2 separate regions of the Homo sapiens genome follow, and region 1 is linked to region 2. Evidence: fine-mapped expression QTL. A gene starts in region 2. The other region holds a variant in brackets. All regions are shown on one strand. Distances are from middle to middle.

Evidence for each region. PIP is the estimated chance that this variant, and not a neighbour inherited with it, causes the effect.
Region 1: its variant is fine-mapped to the expression of IRF7 in whole blood (TOPMed, PIP above 0.99).

What each region holds. Positions count from the first base shown.
Region 1 is chr11:637,470-642,802 of GRCh38, reverse strand. DRD4 (dopamine receptor D4) reads right to left here. Exons shown (of 4, transcript NM_000797.4): 1 at 5,214-5,333; 2 at 3,258-3,370; 3 at 2,497-3,155; 4 at 2,097-2,402. The coding sequence ends at 2,200. Among named protein-coding and RNA genes, the nearest start is that of DRD4, 2.9 kb to the right of the region's middle. RefSeq lists a silencer at 1-154 and enhancers at 1-537, 1,387-1,998, 1,999-2,610, 2,976-3,509, 3,510-4,044 and 3 more. The variant G/C (reference allele first, on the strand shown) is at 1,910.
Region 2 is chr11:612,830-618,133 of GRCh38, reverse strand. It overlaps IRF7 (interferon regulatory factor 7), which reads left to right and starts at 2,184. Exons shown (of 11, transcript NM_001572.5): 1 at 2,184-2,221; 2 at 2,487-2,789; 3 at 2,875-3,037; 4 at 3,127-3,337; 5 at 3,600-3,658; 6 at 3,735-3,960; 7 at 4,097-4,183; 8 at 4,269-4,349; 9 at 4,539-4,928; 10 at 5,017-5,135. The coding sequence starts at 2,770. It overlaps CDHR5 (cadherin related family member 5), which reads left to right. Exons shown (of 15, transcript NM_021924.5): 14 at 23-180; 15 at 364-1,551. The coding sequence ends at 783. RefSeq lists enhancers at 2,728-3,322, 3,917-4,511, 5,106-5,304.

The DNA.
Region 1 (5,333 bases), 25 kb before region 2:
TGTGACCCTCACCCCGCCTGGCCCTTCCTGTGACCCTCAGCCCGCCTGGCCCTTCCTCTGACCCTCAGCCCGCCTGGCCCTTCCTCTGAGACTCTACAATGGCTTTTCATCCAACCCAGCAGGGTCTGCCATTGCCGCAAGGTGGAGGCATCTCAGAGGCCCTGCTTGGCCTTGCCCTGTCCAGGCAGGCGGGCCGTGGGTTGACCTCCATGAGACAGCAGGGCTGGGCCTGCTCCTTTGGGTTTTAACCAACATAAAGGTGGCAGGCAATTGAGGACCTGCACCTCTTAAGAATAATCCCCCAAAGCTGAGAACACCAGCATCTCTGCAGAGAGCACAGCTGCAGGAAGTAGCTGAACCCCTGCCTGGTGGGGGAGGCACCGTGGGAGCCCTCTGGCACAGTGACCCCCGCCAGCAGTGATGCCACCTGGCTTCCTGCGCCAGGCCCTGCAGGAATGGAGTGGGGGTATTCCCTGGAATTGTGGGGGCCACTTACTCTTCCCCAACTTTCCGTAAAACAGAAGCCAAGCACCACGCGTCTGTTGGGATCCCAGGTTTCCACAGCTCCTCCTTTCCAAGCCTGGGAGGCTGATGGTCAGAGGTCGCCCTGCCCCAGGGCTGTCAGCACCCCCAGGACCCCCAGATGCATGTGCACCTCCCATGGCCTCCAGCGCTGTCAGGCACGTGTGGGGCTGTGGGTCCTGGGACAAAGCTGGCGGGAGCCCCTCCTTCACTCTCACGGGTGTCTGAGAGGAATCCACTGTGACTCAGTCTGTTCCGGGGGTGACTGGGACAGGCTGGTCCTGGGAAGCAGGTAGTCGGAGAAGGTGTCCTGGAGGAGGCAGCCGCTGAGGCCATCACAGAAGTGCGTGGTCACCAGACGGGACGGGGCAGCCGCACTAAAGTAGTAATTGGGCTTGGTCCTCTCTCCACCCAATACTCGTTTTCTTTTCTTTTTTGAGACAGGGTCTCCGTCACCCAGGCCGGAGTGCAGTGGCACGATCTCGGCTCACTGCAGCTTTGACTCCCTAGCTTTAAGGGATCCTCCTGCCTCAGCCTCCCGAGTAGCTGGGATTACAGGCGTGACCACCACACCCAGCCTGCACTGAGTATTTTAGCAAGCTGAGGTTGTGCCCAATGCTGTAGACTGCACAGCCCACAGTCTGTCAGTGTTCAGATGGGAGCCTGGCACCCTGACTGGCCACCCTGGCTGCAAACGCCGAATCCCCAGCACAGGAAAGTTCCAGCCAGCACGATTGGGAGGCGGAGGGTCCCCCATTTCTCCCACAACCTGGGCCTGGGAGAGAGCTGGATCCAGTCCAGGGTAGGCTGTTCCTGCATGGAGGGCCCTGGGAGCCGCCCCTCTTCCCCCAGGGTCAGGGGCTGCACTGGTTGATGGAGCCAGGGTGCAGACAGGCAGCTTGGGTCGCTCTGCCCAGCCCCTGGCCCCGCTGCCGCCTCCCTGCTCCCACCCCTTGGCCCAGCCACATTGGTGGACGCTGGGCAGAGGTTGGCTGGGCACCAGGGGTGACTGAGCACGGAGCTCCCTCCAGGGAAGCCACTTGGTGGGGCCCCACCCATCACCACAGGCCCCTTGCTGTGGGGCTTGGGGCATCCTCTGGCCAGGGACTGGCAGGAAGCTAGGCTCTGGCCTCAAGGCAGCTTCTAAAATGACAGGTTGGGCTCCCCTGCCGGGGTCTGCTGGGGCAGCATGAGCCTGGAGCCCCCTGTGCCTGGTTCTCAGAGGTGGGAGTTGGCCCGGGCAGGGCCTGGCGGCTGACAGCCCCCCACCCCGCCTCTCCCCATTTGTTTCTTCCCATCGGAACTGGGCTTCCCCAGGAGACACCTTGCCCTGCTGGGTGCTGCTTCCTCTCCCCTGCAGAGAGGGGAAGCTGGGCCCCAGCGCTGC[G/C]GAACTGAGTGGCTCTCGGGGGCCCCTTCCCCCCTCACCCTGAGCAGGCGGCCGGCTTGGTGGGGTCTGCTCTGTGGGCTTCCTTGGCGGGGAGAAAGAGGTTAACTGGCTGGGGGGCCTGGGGCCACTGAGGCAGAAACCCCTCTTCCCCACTCCCCATCAGCCCCCAGGAGCCTTCACAGCTGAGTTTGGGAAGGAATTTGTTTAATTAACGTACAAAAGCGCCCTCCCCATCTCCTTGGTCCCTGAGGCCTGGCCATCAGGCCGGGGGGCGTCCGGGGGTGCCCGGCTCAGCAGCAGGCACGCAGGGCCTTGCGGAAGACGTTGCGGAACTCGGCGTTGAAGACAGTGTAGATGACGGGGTTGAGGGCGCTGTTGACGTAGCCCAGCCAGGTGACGGCGCTGACCAGCCGCGGGGGCACGGAGCAGGCAGGACACAGCGCCTGCGTGATGTGCACCACGAAGAAGGGCGTCCAGCACAGCAGGAAGGCCCCTGGGGGCGCCGAGAGCCGCGTTAGCGCCCCCCGCCCAGCCGGCCTCGTACCCCCCCCCTCCTCTCCTCCCCGCCCCTCAGGACAGGAACCCACCGACCACCACCGGCAGGACCCTCATGGCCTTGCGCTCCCGGCCGGTGATCTTGGCACGCCGCCTCCTGCGGGTCTGCGGTGGAGTCTGGGGTGGGAGCGCGGCGGCTCTGACGGCGTCGGGGGGAGCACAGTTGGAGCCGCAGGGGTCCGGGGGGAGGCCGGGCGCGGGGGGCGCACAGTCGGGGCCGCAGGGGTCCTGGGGGAGGCTGGGCGCGGCGGGCGCACAGTCGGGGCCGCAGGGACCCCGGGGAAGGCCGGGCGCGGGGGGCGCACAGTCGGGGCCGCAGGGGTCCTGGGGGAGGCGGGGCGCGGGTGGCGTGGGGGAAGGCGGGCCAGGGCCGCTGGGTCGGCGGGGCGCGCGGCCGTGCAGCTTGGCGCGACGTGCCACCTCCCAGCGCTGCAGGCCGCGGAACGTGGCCCAGTAGAGCAGCAGCATGAGCGGGCAGGGTAGGAAGAAGGAGCACACGGACGAGTAGACCACGTAGTCGCGGTCCTCCAGGCGGCACACGGCGGGGTCGCGGCCGCGCACGTCGTTGAGGCCGCACAGTACGGGCGCCGCCACCGCCGCGGACAGCAGCCACGTGGCGCCGATGAGCAGCAGCTGCCGGCGGCTCCCACCCTGCCGGTTGTAGCGCAGCGGCACGGCCACGGCCACGAACCTGCGGGGAGCGCCGAGGGGGCGCCGGACAGCGCACAGGCCGCGGTGAGGGCGGCGGGCGGGGCGCGGGGGCGCCGGGGCGCGGGCGGGGAGGGCGGCGCACCTGTCCACGCTGATGGCGCACAGGTTGAAGATGGAGGCGGTGCACAGCATGACGTCCATGGCCATGAGGGCGTCGCACAGGCGGGGGCTCAGCAGCCACGCGCCACCCTGGACCTGCGCGGCGACACCACAGGCCCTGAGGTTTCCCAGCCACCGCGGGCCCTTGTGACCCGCCCCCACTCTTATGGGTAGTTCCAGGGCTGAATACGGAGAAGGGGGCCCGGCTGTGAGCCAGAGGCCAGAGGACCGGGCAGGGAAACACCCCTTCCCCACGCAGATCTCCCTTTGTTTTGAGTTAGGGTCTCGCTGTGTCACCGCGGCTGGAGTGCTGTGGCTCCATCATGGCTCACTGTAGCCTGGAATTCCTGAGCTCAAGCGATCCTCCCACCTCAGTCTCCAGAGTAGCTGGGATTACAGCCGCGCGCCACCACCCCCGGCTGATTTGTTTTTCTTTTTGTTTTTTGAGACGGAGTTTCGCTCTTGTTGCCCAGGCTGGAGTGCAGTGGTGAGATCTCAACTCACTGCAACCTCCGCCTCCCAGGTTTAAGCGATTCTGCCGCCTCAGCTCCCCCGAATAGCTGGGACAACAGCCGCAGCCACCACCCCCGGCTGATATTTTAAAATTTTTTGTAGAGACCAGGCCTGGTATGTTTCCCAGGCTGGTCTCAAACTATCCTCCTGCCTTTGCCTCCCAAAGTCCTGGGATTACAGGCGTGAATCACGGCTTCTGGCCTTGGTCTCCCTTTTGTTACAAACATGAGAACGGCCTGGGGAATTCCCTGGGGGCGGGCCTGATATCATCGGGCTCAAAGGGAGCCCCTCCCCAGCCTGGGGTAGGCAGGGTCCCCGCTGGGCCTAGAAGCGAAGCTGGCTGCTCTGTTGGCTAAGTTCTCTGTGGGAGACTCGGGCACGTTAATTCATTTCTGTTTCTTCATCTGTAAGACAAGGGTGATGATAGTATCCACATCATAATTGTCTTGAAGATAAATTATAATTAAAAATATGAAGACCGTGCCCAGTGCCCAGCGTAGGACTCCACGTGGAGTGACTCTCTCCAAGGGCAAAGGAGCAGGCAGCCCCTCTAATCCTTCCCGCCGATTTGGGGAGATTAGGAGCTTAAACGTCGTCACTGTGACGTCTGCGGCTCGAAAGGAGCACAGGTCACGCGTGTCCCGTGCTGCTGGTCTCTGCCCCAGCCGCCTGGATTCACTGTGTCCATCAAGGGGAAACCTCGAGTCCCCCTCCCCCACAGTCGGGGACACCGCGTCTCCAGCTCAGCCCTAAGCTGCTTTTCTCTGGCCGCAGAGGGGCTGGCACCAAGGCCGACCCACTCGAGGGCCAGACCTGGTGTGGAGTGTGGGCTCCATCCCCCAATTCCCCCTCAGGCTTCCCCCCAGGGTTCTCAGCAGGGGCCTGGTCCCCACACACCCTCCCCTCCCCTGGGTTTTGTCCAGCCCAGGTCTCCCCTGCGAGCTGTGAGCCTCCTTCTGGGGGTGTGCCAGCATCTGCACTAGGTGTGTGTGGTGGGCAGTGGCTGTGGCAGTGTGTGTGTGTGTGTGTCCCACGGCAGCCAGGGGGCTGAGCCTGCATCTGCCTGTCTGTCCAGCTGGCTGCCCTGGAGGTGAAATCCAGCTACGGAGGGGACTGGGCTTGACAAAGTCGCCTGTTTCCGGGGTCCCTGGATAGAAGGACGGGCATCTCCTGGATAACAGACGCCAAGACAGACGGGGAAGGAGAAGAGGAACGAGGGTCGGGGGACAGACAGCGCAGCGGGTGGAAGGTCGCGAGGTGGCGGCGGTGGGTGTATCGCCGAGGGACAAGGCGCAGCGCCCCTGCCGCCGCCCCAGCTGGAAGCTCCGCACCAGAAAGGGGCCGGGTCGCGCCGGGTCCTCCGTAGGGACAGGGACGGGGAACCGAGGAGCAGGTGAGGATGCTCGTGCGGCCGGACGCGGCTCACCTCGGAGTAGACGAAGAGCGGCAGCACCAGGAGAGCGAGGAGGAGGTCGGCGGCCGCCAGGCTCACGATGAAGGAGTTGGTGGGCGTCTGCAGGGCGCGCTCGGTGGCCACGCTCACGCA
Region 2 (5,304 bases):
ACGTTTTCCACTGCGATGCCAGGTGGCGGCCCCTCGGAGGACAAGCGCTTCTCGGTGGTGGATATGGCGGCCCTGGGCGGGGTGCTGGGTGCGCTGCTGCTGCTGGCTCTCCTTGGCCTCGCCGTCCTTGTCCACAAGCACTATGGCCCCCGGCTCAAGTGCTGCTGTGGCAAAGCTCCGGTGAGGCCCAGGATGGAGAACAGGGCAGGCGACCAGGCAGGAAGTGGGGGACGGGGGACAGGAGAGGGGAGGGCAGAGGGACAGATGTGGAGACGGAGGGGTGTCCAGCGTGGAATGAGGGTGTGCAGGGCCAAGGCTGCAGAGACCCAGGGACCCCGCTGACGCCTCGACTCCCGCCTGCAGGAGCCCCAGCCCCAAGGCTTTGACAACCAGGCGTTCCTCCCTGACCACAAGGCCAACTGGGCGCCCGTCCCCAGCCCCACGCACGACCCCAAGCCCGCGGAGGCACCGATGCCCGCAGAGCCCGCACCCCCCGGCCCTGCCTCCCCAGGCGGTGCCCCTGAGCCCCCCGCAGCGGCCCGAGCTGGCGGAAGCCCCACGGCGGTGAGGTCCATCCTGACCAAGGAGCGGCGGCCGGAGGGCGGGTACAAGGCTGTCTGGTTTGGCGAGGACATCGGGACGGAGGCAGACGTGGTCGTTCTCAACGCGCCCACCCTGGACGTGGATGGCGCCAGTGACTCCGGCAGCGGCGATGAGGGCGAGGGCGCGGGGAGGGGTGGGGGTCCCTACGATGCGCCCGGTGGTGATGACTCCTACATCTAAGTGGCCCCTCCACCCTCTCCCCCAGCCGCACGGGCACTGGAGGTCTCGCTCCCCCAGCCTCCGACCCGAGGCAGAATAAAGCAAGGCTCCCGAAACCCAGGCCATGGCGTGGGGCAGGCGCGCGGGTCCATGGGGGTCCCATTCACTCAGTCCCCTGTCGTCATTAGCGCTTGAGCCCAGGTGTGCAGATGAGGCGGTGGGTCTGGCCACGCTGTCCCCACCCCAAGGCTGCAGCACTTCCCGTAAACCACCTGCAGTGCCCGCCGCCTTCCCGAGGCTCTGTGCCAGCTAGTCTGGGAAGTTCCTCTCCCGCTCTAACCACAGCCCGAGGGGGGCTCCCCTCCCCCGACCTGCACCGGAGATCTCAGGCACCCGGCTCATCTCAGACCTCCCGCTCCCGACCCTACACAGAGATTGCCTGGGGAGGCTGAGGAGCCGATGCAAACCCCCAAGGCGACGCACTTGGGAGCCGGTGGTCTCAAACACCTGCCGGGGGTCCTAGTCCCCTTCTGAAATCTACATGCTTGGGTTGGAGCGCAGCAGTAAACACCCTGCCCAGTGACCTGGACTGAGGCGCGCTGGGGGTGGGTGCGCCGTGTGGCCTGAGCAGGAGCCAGACCAGGAGGCCTAGGGGTGAGAGACACATTCCCCTCGCTGCTCCCAAAGCCAGAGCCCAGGCTGGGCGCCCATGCCCAGAACCATCAAGGGATCCCTTGCGGCTTGTCAGCACTTTCCCTAATGGAAATACACCATTAATTCCTTTCCAAATGTTTTAATTGTGAGAGTATCTGATATTCTTGACTGAACAATGTAAAAAACCCAAAGGGGGCTGCGCACGGCGGCTCTCGCCTAAATCCCAGCACTTTGGGAGGCCGAGGTGGGCAGATCACCTGAGGTCGGGAGTTCGACACCAGCCTGACCAACATAGAGAAACCCCGTCTCTACTAAAAATACAAAATTAGCCGGGCGTGGTGGTTCATGCCTGTAATCCCAGCTACTCGGGAGGCTTAGGTAGGAGAATCACTTGAACCCGGGAGGCGGAGGTTGTGGTGGGCCAAGATTGTGCCACCGCACTCCAGCCTGGGTAACAAAAGCGAAACTCCATCTCAAAAAAAGAAACGCAAACGGTGCAGCTGCCCCTTTTTCGAGGCACGTCCACCTCCCATTACCCACTTCCTTTTTTTTTTGAGACTGAGTCTTGCTCTGTCCCCTGGGCTGTAGTGGAGTGGCTCCATCTCGGCTCACTGCAGCCACTCCCAACGCCCTCCACTCCTCCCTACTCCGCGCTGGCCGGGGCGGGGTTCCGCTGGTCGCATCCAATAATAAGAACAGGCGGCGCGCGCCCTTCCCGGAAACTCCCGCCTGGCCACCATAAAAGCGCCGGCCCTCCGCTTCCCCGCGAGACGAAACTTCCCGTCCCGGCGGCTCTGGCACCCAGGTACTGGGGACCCCAGACCCACGCGGTGCAGGCCGGGAGCGAGAGCCTCCGTGGGGGCTCCGTGACCCCGGAGGGGTAGAGCCAAGAGCTGGGGGAGCCTGAGAGATGAGGGTCGGGCGGGGAGGGAGGCGGAGGCGGAGGCGGGGTTCCGCGGAGCTGAGAACCGGACGGGGTGGGATCGAGGAGGGTGCGAAGCGCCACTGTTTAGGTTTCGCTTTCCCGGGAGCCTGACCCGCCCCTGACGTCGCCTTTCCCGTCTCCGCAGGGTCCGGCCTGCGCCTTCCCGCCAGGCCTGGACACTGGTTCAACACCTGTGACTTCATGTGTGCGCGCCGGCCACACCTGCAGTCACACCTGTAGCCCCCTCTGCCAAGAGATCCATACCGAGGCAGCGTCGGTGGCTACAAGCCCTCAGTCCACACCTGTGGACACCTGTGACACCTGGCCACACGACCTGTGGCCGCGGCCTGGCGTCTGCTGCGACAGGAGCCCTTACCTCCCCTGTTATAACACCTGACCGCCACCTAACTGCCCCTGCAGAAGGAGCAATGGCCTTGGCTCCTGAGAGGTAAGAGCCCGGCCCACCCTCTCCAGATGCCAGTCCCCGAGCGCCCTGCAGCCGGCCCTGACTCTCCGCGGCCGGGCACCCGCAGGGCAGCCCCACGCGTGCTGTTCGGAGAGTGGCTCCTTGGAGAGATCAGCAGCGGCTGCTATGAGGGGCTGCAGTGGCTGGACGAGGCCCGCACCTGTTTCCGCGTGCCCTGGAAGCACTTCGCGCGCAAGGACCTGAGCGAGGCCGACGCGCGCATCTTCAAGGTGGGGACCCCAGCCCCGCCCCGCCCCGGGTGGGAGAGCCCGCCTAGGACCCCGCGGGCCCGGCACACGTGTTCTGTCCCCCTCTTCAGGCCTGGGCTGTGGCCCGCGGCAGGTGGCCGCCTAGCAGCAGGGGAGGTGGCCCGCCCCCCGAGGCTGAGACTGCGGAGCGCGCCGGCTGGAAAACCAACTTCCGCTGCGCACTGCGCAGCACGCGTCGCTTCGTGATGCTGCGGGATAACTCGGGGGACCCGGCCGACCCGCACAAGGTGTACGCGCTCAGCCGGGAGCTGTGCTGGCGAGGTGAGCGACGCCGGCTGCCAAGGGCGTTGGCATTCGTCCTGCTTGGGCAAAGGGGAACATTCTCTGGGTCAGATTTGTGGTTTTAGAAGCTGTTCTGGGAGAGGCTGCCAGCAGGCCCAGGACAGGTGGAGAGCCACATCCCCACCTCCTCAGGCCACAGCCTAAGGGTTCACAGCCAGGAAGCTGGTGGGGGCTACACCAGGCTCTCCTTGTATCTCTCACTCTGGTGTCGGGGCCTAACGCCTGCCCCATTCTCTCTCAGAAGGCCCAGGCACGGACCAGACTGAGGCAGAGGCCCCCGCAGCTGTCCCACCACCACAGGTACCCTTCTCTCTGCCTGCCTCTCCTCCTGCCAGGCCGCGGAGCTGCTTACGTTCACCCTGACTTTTCCCTGCAGGGTGGGCCCCCAGGGCCATTCCTGGCACACACACATGCTGGACTCCAAGCCCCAGGCCCCCTCCCTGCCCCAGCTGGTGACAAGGGGGACCTCCTGCTCCAGGCAGTGCAACAGAGCTGCCTGGCAGACCATCTGCTGACAGCGTCATGGGGGGCAGATCCAGTCCCAACCAAGGCTCCTGGAGAGGGACAAGAAGGGCTTCCCCTGACTGGGGCCTGTGCTGGAGGTGTGGGCGTGCCCGGGGAGGGGGGGAGCGCGGGAGGGGCCAGTGCACCTGGACGGACACTTTAGAAGGGGGCTGGGGATTGGGGAGCTGGAGAATTAGGAGGGGACCACCGTTCCCACTGTCCTCCCCTCCTCAGGCCCAGGGCTCCCTGCTGGGGAGCTGTACGGGTGGGCAGTAGAGACGACCCCCAGCCCCGGGCCCCAGCCCGCGGCACTAACGACAGGTGAGAGGGGTAGGGGTTGGGAGGCCTGGGGCACAGGGAGAGGCTAGGGATGAGGTGCCAGCACAGGATTCCCTTCCGGATGCAGGCGAGGCCGCGGCCCCAGAGTCCCCGCACCAGGCAGAGCCGTACCTGTCACCCTCCCCAAGCGCCTGCACCGCGGTGCAAGGTGAGTGCATCCCAGGAAGGGGCAGCCTGTCCCCGCCCACCCCCGTCACTCACGGCTTGTCCCCGCCCACCCATCACTCACATCCTGTCCCCGCCCACCCCCGTCACTCACATCCTGTCCCCGCCCACCCCCGTCACTCACAGCCTGTCCCCGCCCACCCCCGTCACTCACAGCTTGGTCTCCACACAGAGCCCAGCCCAGGGGCGCTGGACGTGACCATCATGTACAAGGGCCGCACGGTGCTGCAGAAGGTGGTGGGACACCCGAGCTGCACGTTCCTATACGGCCCCCCAGACCCAGCTGTCCGGGCCACAGACCCCCAGCAGGTAGCATTCCCCAGCCCTGCCGAGCTCCCGGACCAGAAGCAGCTGCGCTACACGGAGGAACTGCTGCGGCACGTGGCCCCTGGGTTGCACCTGGAGCTTCGGGGGCCACAGCTGTGGGCCCGGCGCATGGGCAAGTGCAAGGTGTACTGGGAGGTGGGCGGACCCCCAGGCTCCGCCAGCCCCTCCACCCCAGCCTGCCTGCTGCCTCGGAACTGTGACACCCCCATCTTCGACTTCAGAGTCTTCTTCCAAGGTCAGTGAGGCCCTTGCCTGGGGGGCTGTCTCCAGGGGTCCTTGGGAGCACCTGCCTGCCAGGTACTCAGCAGAGTCCCCTTCTTCAGAGCTGGTGGAATTCCGGGCACGGCAGCGCCGTGGCTCCCCACGCTATACCATCTACCTGGGCTTCGGGCAGGACCTGTCAGCTGGGAGGCCCAAGGAGAAGAGCCTGGTCCTGGTGAAGGTGAGACCAGAGCCTCAAGGAGGGGAGGCCATGTGCTCAGGCCCACTGACAGACGCCTGATGCCCTCAGAGCCTCGGAGAGGGGGAGGGGAGGCCATACACCGGGTCACTGACAGACGCCCGACGCCCTCAGAGCCTGGGGAGGGGGAGGGGAGGACACACGCCGGGTC